2 linked regions of the Homo sapiens genome follow. The protein of the gene in region 2 purifies or fractionates together with the protein of the main gene of each other region. This does not show direct contact. Each region holds a gene or a part of one and is shown on either strand. Other genes may lie near its edges.

Evidence for each region.
Region 1: the proteins of HARBI1 (region 2) and NAIF1 purify together in Homo sapiens (affinity purification with mass spectrometry; 2 studies listed by BioGRID and IntAct, with this or other methods). This does not show direct contact.

What each region holds. Positions count from the first base shown.
Region 1 is NC_000009.12:128,060,440-128,064,320, forward strand, and holds the end of NAIF1 (nuclear apoptosis-inducing factor 1), read right to left. Parts: intron 3,462-3,881; coding exon 2,989-3,461; 3' UTR 794-2,988; downstream 1-793. UniProt on the Homo sapiens protein: Induces apoptosis.
Region 2 is NC_000011.10:46,614,118-46,621,377, forward strand, and holds the start of HARBI1 (putative nuclease HARBI1), read right to left. Parts: upstream 3,111-7,260; 5' UTR 3,007-3,110; exon of another isoform or gene 2,377-3,006; intron 2,265-2,376; 5' UTR 2,121-2,264; coding exon 1,451-2,120; intron 1-1,450. UniProt on the Homo sapiens protein: Transposase-derived protein that may have nuclease activity. Does not have transposase activity.

The sequences.
Region 1 (3,881 bases), on a different chromosome or scaffold from region 2:
CACACCTGGCCAGATCCAGTCTTTAAAAAAAAAAAAATTCTTAACCTTCAGAAAGTATCAGGATTACTGAGGGCTTGTACTGAGGGCTTGTTTACAATGCATAGAGTCCTCCCTCCAGGTTTTGAGTGAGGCCTGCGATTGGGTATATTTAAGAAATGCCTCAGGTAATTCTTTTTTTTTTTCTTTTGTTTTTTTTTTTTTGAGACGGAGTCTTGCTCTGTCACCTGGGCTGGAGTGCAATGGCATGATCTTGGCTCACTGCAACCACTGTCTCCCGGGTTCAAGTGATTCTCCTGCCTCAGCCTCCTGAGTAGCTGGGATTACAGGTGCATGCCACCACGCCCGGCTAATTTGTGTATTTTTAGTAGAGACGGGGTTTCACCATGTTGGTCAGGCTGGTCTCGAACTCCTGACCTCGTGATCTGCCCACCTCGGCCTCCCAAAGTGCTGGGATTACAGGCATGAGCCACAGTGCCTGGCCTGCCTCAGGTAATTCTTAAGAGTCCCAAACACTGCCTTAAACCAGGAATAGACTGACTTCTACTGTAAATGGGTCAGAGAGTAAACACTTTTGGCTTTGTGGGCCAGATGTCTCTGTAACTACTCAACTCTTGCTTTGGTGGTACAAAAAAAAAAAAAAAAAAAGCCACAGGTTCATAAATGAATGGGTGTGGCTGTGTTCCAATACAATTTTATTTATAAAAATAGGTGGTGAGCCTGATTTGAGTTTGTGGGCCATCGTCTGCCAGTCCCTGGTTCTCTTCTATATATAAGCAATAAAGACACAGAGATGTGTGTATAAAAAAGTGATATGTCTTTAATTTAAAATTATGACCCGGAAATAACTAGTCAGTTTAAGTGATCCAGACTTCCTCTTCATACCCAAATGGAACAGACACAATATTGGCTCAGATTTCCAACCCCAGAAAAAAACCAAACCAAGTCCTCAGGAAGTCCCTGCAGCGACCTTGCTGGGGCCATCAGACCGCACAGAGTGGAGGTGCCCAAGCTGCTAGGCTGCTCTTAATCCAGCCACACTGAGAAGAGCTTTCCTTCTACCAGCAACTCCCTCGCTGGGTCCGATATCCCCCTTCACCTCCCTTTTAGCTGGCACTGCACGAATGCCTCCACAGAGAGGCTGACAGTACAGCAGTCACCTCCCAGCTGTCTTCGGTGCATCTTCAGGGCCACCTTCCTGTGGTCACAATAGAGGAGTTGAGCATTCTAAACGTTCGTGCCCAGGAGGGCAGCGTCTTCTCTTTTTAGCTGAGGTCTGGAGCCCTGAGTTGTAACCATTGGTCATATGTGGCTGAGGCACCGACAGCAAATCGCCAAACTTGGGAAACGATCTGGGGAGATGCAAGGGCCTTGGTAATTGATGGTGAGTCTGAAAATGAAACAGACAAATGGCATCTGGGTAAAATCCTTACAGACATCTCAGAAGAGAAAGTGTAAAGATGGAACAGGGAACAGCACCTCCTTCAGCACTCCAAGGCTCTGCCTGCTCTTCCCTGAGCATAGAATCCAAAGGGTCCCATTTGTTTTTTTGGTTTTTTCTTTGTTTTTTTTTTGAGACAGAGTCTCGCTCTGTCGCCAGGCTGGAGTGCAGCGGTGCAATCTCGGCTCACTGCAATCTCCGCCTCCTGGGTTCAAGCGATTCTCCTGCCTCAGCCTCCCGGGTAGCTGGGACTACAGGCGTGTGCCACCACGCCCAGCTAATTTTTGTGTTTTTAGTAGAGACGGGGTTTCATCATGTTGGCCAGGATGGTCTTGATCTCTTGACCTCGTGATCCACCCGCCTCGGCCTCCCAAAGCGCTGGGATTACAGACTTGAGCCACCTCGCCCGGCCAGGGTCCCACTTCTTAGGTCAGCTTCGCCTTTTCCTCCTCCTACGTTCAGGGTCAATTATGGCTTTGGATTCACTCAGCTACTCAGAGGGAGTCTCAAGAGAACAGAAGGCACTGAGCGGTGTGGCAGGGGAAGAGTCCAGCATGTGATGCTCAGCAGGGCTTTTTTTGCACTGAATTTTGGAAATGTGGAGTCAGCAGAGAGGAAAGGAGGATGGGTGTGGCCACAGGGCAGCCTTCCTGGAGGCCTTCCTAGGAGGGGTTCACACACAGAATAAATACAACTGGCTGGATGCAAGCCTCCGCACAAAGCCAACAGGTCACTCAGACCCACTGCAGTGGGGCAGCAAGCTTCCACACTAGTTGGCTTTCTCAAAAATTTACAGCATCCAAAGCTTGACCTGAGTCAAAAGCTCTAGGGACAAACCACCAAAGGGCTGCCCAGAGATGCTGTTGAAAACCAGAGAGTGGCCAAACCGTCCCCACCATACACAGCATTCCTGAGCCAGACTGGCTGCACACTGCATGTATTACGGAGGCGTCCCAGCACACTACCTAACAAGGGCCTGCGCTGTGCCTGGGGTGGGGTCGGGGGAGAGCACAACAGTCATTGGAGTCCCCTGAGAACTGAGGCACAGTGAGGAGAAAAGGGTGGGGTTTCCTCCTCAGTCACACTACCTCCCAAAGGAGGAAGATATTATTGCTCAACTGCCAGCATCAGTGACATTACCCTACTCGAAAGGATGGCACCTGGGGTTGGGCAGCTCAGTAGAGACCCAGGCTGGGTGACGGCCCCCAGTGACAGCCCGTTGTGTTGTTCCTTACAGTTGTCCAAGACCAAGGCTGGGTCATGTCACAAGCCCGGGGTCATGACAACACATGTCCCATCACATGCACACGTGACCCCCTGCTAACCAATCTTCTGGATCTTAGCAAGGCAGCTCAAGTAGGGGGAGTATGAGTTTGGGTCCCAGGAGCCCAACAAATTCCTCTTCTCAAAAACAGTGCAACCCCTAAGCGTTTATTAAAGAGGGAGCTGTGCACGTGGCCGGTCTAAGGCCAAGGCCAATCACAGGACCCACTTACAAGTCCATGGAGTTTTCATCCCATCATGGCAGAAGGCTGGCCTGACCCCTGCCCTCACTGGATGATGCTGTCTGGCTGCCCATTCTGGGCCACCTGCCCAGGGTCAGAGGCGGGGGCCGGGTTAGCTGTGTTGCTCTGCAGGTAGCGGCGGAAATCTTTGATCATAGGCCGGAGGACCTGGATGAGGACGCTCAGGGCAGCCTGTGTGCCCTCCATGGCCTGGGCCTGGCGCTCCTGGGCACAGGCCTGCACTTCCTGGGAGCGGCGGATCATCTGCAGTAGGTCGTTCTGCTGTTCCAGGTGCTGTGCGATCTCCTTCACATGCAGGTTGGTGACCCGCTGCTCCTGTATCAGCTTGGCGGAGTTGAGAGCAATGCGGCTCTTGAGCGCTTGCGGCTTGACCGACGTGTCTGCATGCTGGGCCATCATGTCCACAGGGGTCTCTGGTGGCAGAGGTGGGGGCGCCTCAGCCGTGCAGTACTCCACCACGCCCTCCTCCAGCGTGTGATAGGTGGTCTCTGTGGGGACTGCACAGTAGAAAGAACAGAGGCCAAGGGAGGTCACTTTCTGGAAGGAATAAAGCTGGCTGTATGGGGTGGGGAGGAGGCCATAAAGTCCTGTCCTGGAGGGACATAAAGGGGAATCCAGGCCTCCCCTGGCTGCATAGCTATTCACATATAAATCTAGAATCTAAGGGGTTCAGAATTTTTTTTTTTTTTTTTTTTTTTTTTTTGAGACGGAGTCTCGTTCTGTCGCCCAGGCGGGAGTGCTGTGGCGCGATCTCCGCTCACTGCAAGCTCCGCCTTCCGGGTTCACGCCATTCTCCTGCCTCAGCCTCCCGAGTAGCTGGGACTACAGGCGCCCGCCACTGCGCCCGGCTAATTTTTTGTATTTTTAGTAGAGACGGGGTTTCACCGTGGTCTCGATCTCCTGACCTCGTGATCCGC
Region 2 (7,260 bases):
TACATTTATTAATATATATATATATATAGGCTGGGCATGGTGGCTCACGCCTGTAATCCCAGCACTTTGGGAGGCTGAGATGGGCAGATCAACTGAGGTTGGGAGTTCGAGAGCAGCCTGACCAACATGGTGAAACCCCGTCTCTACTAAAAATACAAAATTAGCTGGGCATAGTGGCGCATGCCTATAATCCCAGCTACTCAGGAGGCTGAGGCAGAATTGCTTGAACCTGGGAGGCGGAGGTTGCAGTGAGCCAAGATCGCACCATTGCACTCCAGCCTGGGCAAAAAGAGCAAAACTCTGTCTCAATAATAATAATAATAATAATTTTTTTTTACGTTGGTGTGGTGGCTTACAGCCATATTCCCAGAGCTTTGGGAGGCTCAGATGGGAGGATAGCTTGAGGCCAGGAGCTCAAGACTAGTCTGGTCAACATAGTGAGACTCTGCCTCTACACAAAATAAAAAAAATAAAAATAAAATAAGAAAAAAAAGTTTAATTGTTTTGGAGACAGGGTCTTGCTATCTTGCTCAGGCTGGTCTCAAGGTCCAGGCTCAAGTGATCCTCTTGCCTTAGCCTCCCAGATAGTTGGAATTACAATTACCAGTTGTACTAGTACGTGCCACTGTGCTGGCTCTAACAGTATGCTTTAAAGTTTTAATAATGTCTATTAAATGTTGATTTTTTAAAAATTAAGGCTAAGAAAATTCTCACCTGAGGTCTCATAAAAAACTGACAGGACTGAGACTCAGCTCTACAGACTGCCATATCTCATTCTACTCCACTACATAATTTTTCTTTTTCTTTTTTTTGAGATGGAGTTTTGCTCTTGTTGCCCAGGCTAGAGTGCACTGGCGCGATCTTGGCTAACCGCAACCTCCGCCTCCCGGGTTCAAGCGATTCTCCTGCCTCAGCCTCCCGAGTAGCTGGGATTGCAGGCATGCGCTACTACGCCCGGCTAATTTTGTATTTTTAGTATAGACGGGGTTTCTCCATGTTGGTCAGGCTGGTCTTAAACTCCCAACCTCAGGTGATCTGCCTGCCTCGGCCTCCCAAAGTGCTAGGATAACAGGCATGAGCTACACGTGCGGTCCCTTTTCTTTCTTTCTTTTTTTTTTTTTGAGATGGAGTTTTTGCTCTGTTGCCCAGGTGGGGGTGCAATGGCGCCATCTCGGCTCACTGCAACCTCTGCCTTCTGGGTTCAAGCGATTGTCCTGCCTCAGCCTCCCGAGTAGCTGGAACTACAGGCGCCTGCCACCATGCCCAATTTTTGTATTTTTAGTAGAGACAAGATTTCACCATGTTGGCCAGGCTGGTCTCCAGCTCTTGACCTCAGGTGATCTACCGCCTCAGCCTCCCAAAGTGCTGGGGTTGTGTGAGCCACCGCCCCCAGCCTACATAACTTTTCTATGCCTCCAAACAAAATGAAAATTCACACTTGCAAACTTACCCAGAAGCCAGCTATCTTTGTGCATACCCGCTTCAAACTGACTACTGAGGGAAGACTGCTGCAGCACAGCACAGTCCTGTAGGCTGCCGGGCCAGTTTGTCTCCACGGTCATTAGTGTCCCTCTAATGTCACACACCATCAGGCAGTTTAAAGAATGCAGGCCTTTTCGGTTCACATAGGAGAGGTCTTCAGCATTTGGTGCCTTGATGGCCACATGGATACAGTCAACCACCCCCATCACCCCTGGCATCCCTGCCAACCCATAGAATTCATCCTTCAGAGCCTGAATGGAGGCTTCATCAGCTGGAAAGCGAATGAACTGTGAGGCCCTTTCCACAAGTGCTTCAGTGACATTGGCAACACAACGACTCATAGACGCCTGACTGATTCCAATGGCATCTCCCATCCGAGTCTGGAAGGAACCTGAGGTATAAAAACCCAATGCTGCAAGGACCTGTGTCTCTGGGCTAATAGCCCTGGATCGCTGAGTAGGCCTAGAAAGATTCGCCCCCAAGAGCTCCACCAAGTAATAAATGAACTGCCGTGGAAACCCATACATGGACATCAAGTATTCATCAGTCACATCATCCAGCTTAAAACGGTCCAATGTCCGGTGACCACGGCCATATAGCAAGAGGTCACAGTCAAGCACTGTTATTGGTATAGCCATGGTAAATGTGAATGTTGGCTCTCCTCTTTGCTTTTTCTGAACTGTTCCCAATGAAGATGTTGGTGCAAGAACGTATTTTTAAGAAAGTATCAGAATCCAACAGCTAACCACAGTTAAATGGCTCTGCCATTTATAATCTTCTCTCTGTAAATGTTAAAAGAAAAAACATTAGGAACCTACCAAAGACTTTAAAGTGACTCAAAGGCTGGAGCAGCTCCTTTTCTACAAATTTCCATTTTGTTGAGGCAAAACGTACTGTACTTACAACTCCGGATTTTTCTCCACTAACTCATGGCTGCACGACAGGCTTGCTCTGATTCAAGGATAATGGGAATTCAATCTTTGTGGCTCATTTAATGCTTGGCATTTCAATTGAGAACACCAAAAGAATAATGGAGGTGATGACATAATTATTCACAAGGTAAAAGAGGTCGGCTTCTAACTATATAGGCCAAGAAGCAGCTGACATATGTCATAACCACCTTGGGTAAGAATTGGTCACGGGTTTCATTATCCAAAGACTTCTGGTTTCACCTGACAAATACAGGACAGATGCTGGGGTGTTCAAACCAGTCTAACAAGAAAAGAAGGGGCAAAAAAAAAAAAAAAAAAAAAAAAAAAAAAACAACCAAAGTCCACAACCCAGCCTTATGGACGTACACTGTGTGCTGTAACAAAAGGCTTTTCCCTCACTCCAAGAACTCCAAATCGTGAACCTGAGGGCCAGGAAGTACGGAAGACCAGACACATTGGAAGTCGGGAGCGAAAAAGAGGCTGGCCGAACCAGGTTTGGGAAGCGACTCTGCCACTTTTAAAGGGCACCCTAAAAACGGATGTCAAAGTCTGATTGCGCCGGCCACTCAGTTAGCCCAGGCCCGTCACCCACCTCTCCGCGGCTGCCAGGTTACCAGCCACACTTCCCACCCACCCAGCCGGGTTGGGCCCTCCTCCGGAACCGGCGACTGCACAGAGGCCGCCACGGCGCGCAACAGCGGCACCGCCCCTTCCGCGTCAGCGCCCGCCCCGCGCCGCGCCCTCACTGCCGCTGCCGCGGCTACCTGCGGTTCATCTCCGCACATTCCACACGCGGCCCAAACGGTCTCTCTCTCTCTCTCTCAAACACCGCCTTTCCGTCTTTGTTTTATCTTGAGTAGCTTAGAAAGATTGGAGAAGAAAGCTTACGTGGAATGAAAATCAACTTTTATGGATATTTTGAGGACTAAAAGAATAAATAGGGCGTCCGTACTGTAGCGAAAGTGCGACTAAGGTTAGGCATCTGGATTTCCCCCGTAGCCCTCTTTCACCCCCCCCCCCCGGCCATTACCGAAGCGGATGAAAACAAACACTAACGATGGCGGCGCCGGGAAGCGACCGGCTGCTGGGCTTAAGGCGGGAGTGACCGCTTAACCAGTGAGGGAAGCACTGAAGAGCGCCAGTCGACGTGGGTGCGACAACTCGCGGAGTCTTAGGAGCAAAACGTCTGGGGCCTGCGAGCCAGGACCCTTCTGAAGCCTTAGGTGTCTATCGGCGACGTGTACGGTCACTGCAGCTCCGGAGCGCGGAACCCTCAGCCAGGAGGCGCGGCTGGTCGGTCCCAGGTCCCGGCCTCCGTAATGAGAGCCCGGAACCACTCTTTGTGCCGCAGCTTCGCAGGTACTAACTTTTGCGGGGGATACCCCAAGATCTCTCAGCGCCCCCGGGTGGGAGGCTGTGGATCTGCGGCCCCTTGGCTGCTGCTTCGTGGAAGTAGAAGGGATTAGCCACGGTTCAATCCCCTGGGCCCCTGAGTTTTCTGTGGGAAGTTGAGTTGGTCTAGGCCCCGTTGGCCCCTGCTTGTTTGGCAGAGAATCCCCTCCACCCCAGAGCTTTCCTCTCCACTTTTTCAGCTCCTTGGGTTAGGTCGTCAGGCGTTTTGGAGGTAATTTGGGGGGCCATAACTCCGGGGTTGGGTGCCAATATGAGTGAGGTAGGTTTTCATTCAATCAAGATTTGCTGAGTGCCAAATATGTACTCCGCGTGTAGGTGAGGGTGACTGTTGACTAGTGAAAAAAGGGACCCATGGTTCACGACTGTCTTCTTACTGGCAGTGGAACGACCTGTGGAAACCTGTGATCCATTCTCATTAAATAAATCTCTGGGTAAGTGGCTAAGCACCTTCTTGAGCTCATCACTAATTCTTCCCAGTTTTCACTTTTCCAGTGAGTTCCCAGTTAGCCTGGTCAATTCAGCGTAGCATTTCACTTTTGGTATTTCTTCGTTCTCTGGCCACCCCGCAGCCAAAAAGAAAAAAGAGATTTTAAAAAATTACCTATTTTCTCATTACACTTAGTTTAAAACTCATCTCCTAAGGTGATAGAATTTATTGGACACCTTTAGTGGGAGATGTATTATAATAAGAAACAACAAGCTCTTCCTTTACACTAAATTAGCTTCCAGATTTTGTGTGTTGTTTTATGACTGTTAGTCCTTTTCATGTGTGCATGTAGTGGCTCCAGCTCAATTATGAGGTTTTTTTTTTGTTGTTTTCAACTCTCCATTTATCAGCTCAGGAGAAGTCTTTTAGTTTTTTAGATTTTAAAATTTTTATTATTATTATTAGAGATAAGGTATTGCTGTGTTACCCAAGCTGGAGTACAGTGGCGCCTTCATAGCTAACTTTAATCTCAAACTCCTGGGCTCAGGGAATCCTCCCACCTCAGCCTTCTAAAGTGTTGGAGTTACATGCATAAGCCACAGAGTCCGGCCCAGGAGCTTAATCTCGAAGGAAGTTTACTTGAACTTTAGGTGTGGAATATTCGAAAGTAACTTCCAACATGGGGTGTGGAGCTAAGTAAGATGAATTTACATAAACCGTCATTTTTCCTGCATGTGCTTAGTGGAGGAGAGTGCATAGAGTTGCTGGTCATTGCTTCCTATCAAATTGTGGAAACCAATAAAAACTGAAAATATTCTGCGAGAGAATAGAGGTACTGTAGCCAGGAGGAATGCAAAGGAGGCTGCCCAGAGGGAATCAAACCTTTCTAAAGTTTGGGTTTTAAATATTTAAAAGGATTTTAAGTCCCTAAAGGGATTTAAAGGTTATTTTAAATAATTAGCTGATTTTTTTTTAATGTCCTTGGAAGGTAGATTTCTTGCTTTTTTTTTTTTTTTTTTTTTTTTTTTTTGAGACGGAGTTTCACTCTGGTTGCCCAGGCTAGAGTGCGGTGGCGGGAACTCGGCCCACTGCAACCTCTGCCTCCCGGGTTCAAGCGATTCTCCTGCCTCAGCCTCCTGAGTAGCTGGGATTACAGACATGTGCCAGCACGCCCAGCTAATTTTGTATTTTTAGTAAAGATGGGGTTTCTCCATGTTAGTTAGGCTGTTTGTTCTTGAACTCCCGACCTCAGGTTATCCACCCGCCTTGGCCTCCCAAAGTGCTGGGATTACAGACATGAGCCACCACTCCTGGCCGATTTCTTGCTTTTAACTGAAGAGTAAATGTGGGCCAGTTTATTAAAAATCCTCTGAAGGGGCCGGGCAGGGTGGCTTACACCTGTAATCCCAGCACTTTGGGGGGCCGAGGCAGGCGAATCATGAGGTCAGGAGTTCAAGACCAGCCTGGCCAACAAGGTGAAACCCCGTCTCTACTAAAAATACAAAAAGTTAGCTGGACGTAGTGTTGGGCGCCTGTAATCCCACCTACTCGGGTGGCTGAGGCAGGAGAATCGCTTGAACCCAGGAGGTGGAGGTTGCAGTGAGCCTAGATCACGCCATTGCACTCCAGCCCGGGAGACAGCGCCCCTCTGTCTCAAAAAAAAAAAAAAAAAATTCCTCTGAGGACCAATATAGGTTACATAGGCAATTTGTCTGTGTTTTTTGTTGTTGTTTTTTGCAATGGAGTTTCACTCTTGTTGCCCAGGCTGGAGGACAGTGGCATGATCTCGGCACACTGCAACAACCTCCCCCTCCTGAGTTCAAGCAATTCTCCTGCCTCAGCCTCCCAAGTAGCTGGGATTACAGGCGCCCGCCACCACGCCTGGCTAAGTTTTTGTATTTTTAGTGGAGATGAGGTTTCACCGAGTTGGCCAGGCTGGTCTCCAACTCCTGACCTCAGGTGATCCACCCGCCCTGGCCTCCCAAAGTGCTGGGATTACAGGCGTGAGCCACCGCGCCAGGCCTGGCAATCTCTCTTATCCTGGTATTTTTTTGTATGCCCTTGGTCATAAGAGAAGGGATGAGAATGTGAATTACCACTGCTTAGAAAAACAACTCAATTGGGCTGGGCGCGGTTGCTCACACCTGAAATCCCAGCACCTTGGGAGGCTGAGGCAGGCGGATCACCTGAGTTCGGGAGTTTGAGACTAGCTTGGGCAACATGGAGAAACCCTGTCTCTACCAAAAATACAAAAATACCTGGGCGTGGTGGCGCATGTCTGTAATCCCAGCTACTCGGGAGGCTGAGACAAGAGAATCGCTTGAACTGGGGAGGCAGAGGTTGCTGTGAGCCGAGATCATGCCATTGCATTCCAGCCTGGGCAACAAGAGTGAAACTCCATCTCAAGAAAAAGAAAAACAACTCAATTAACGTGCATGGTTGACTTAACAGGGTCTCCTCAGTAAAAGTAAAGGTAAATCAAGAATTCATAGAAGTCATAACTTATAGAAACCTCCTGTGGAGCAGAAAAATAAAATGAAAGAAGTAATAACTTAGTATTGCTGTTTTGGAAAATGCTGCTTTCACTTTTGATTCATACATGTGAAAGAAATAGTAAAGAAATAGTTAAGAATCATTTTACATTTTTTTCTTTTTTTTTTTGATACGGAGTCTTGCTCTGTTGCCCAGGCTGGAGTGTAGTGGTGTGATCTTGGCTCGCTGCAACCTCTGCCTCCCAGGTTCAAGCGATTCTCCTGCCTCAGCCTCCTGAGTAACTGGGATTACAGGTGCGTGCCACCACGCCCGGCTAATTTTTGTATTTTTAGCAGAGACTGGATTTCTCCATGTTGGTCAGGCTGGTCTCCAACTCCTGACCTCGTGATACACCCACCTTGGCCTCCCAAAGTGCTGGAATTACAGATGTGAGCCACCGCGCCCAGCCATATTTGTTTATTATTTTGAGTTGTTGATACTTTCTTTTTACATGAAGTCTGTAGTTTATAAAAT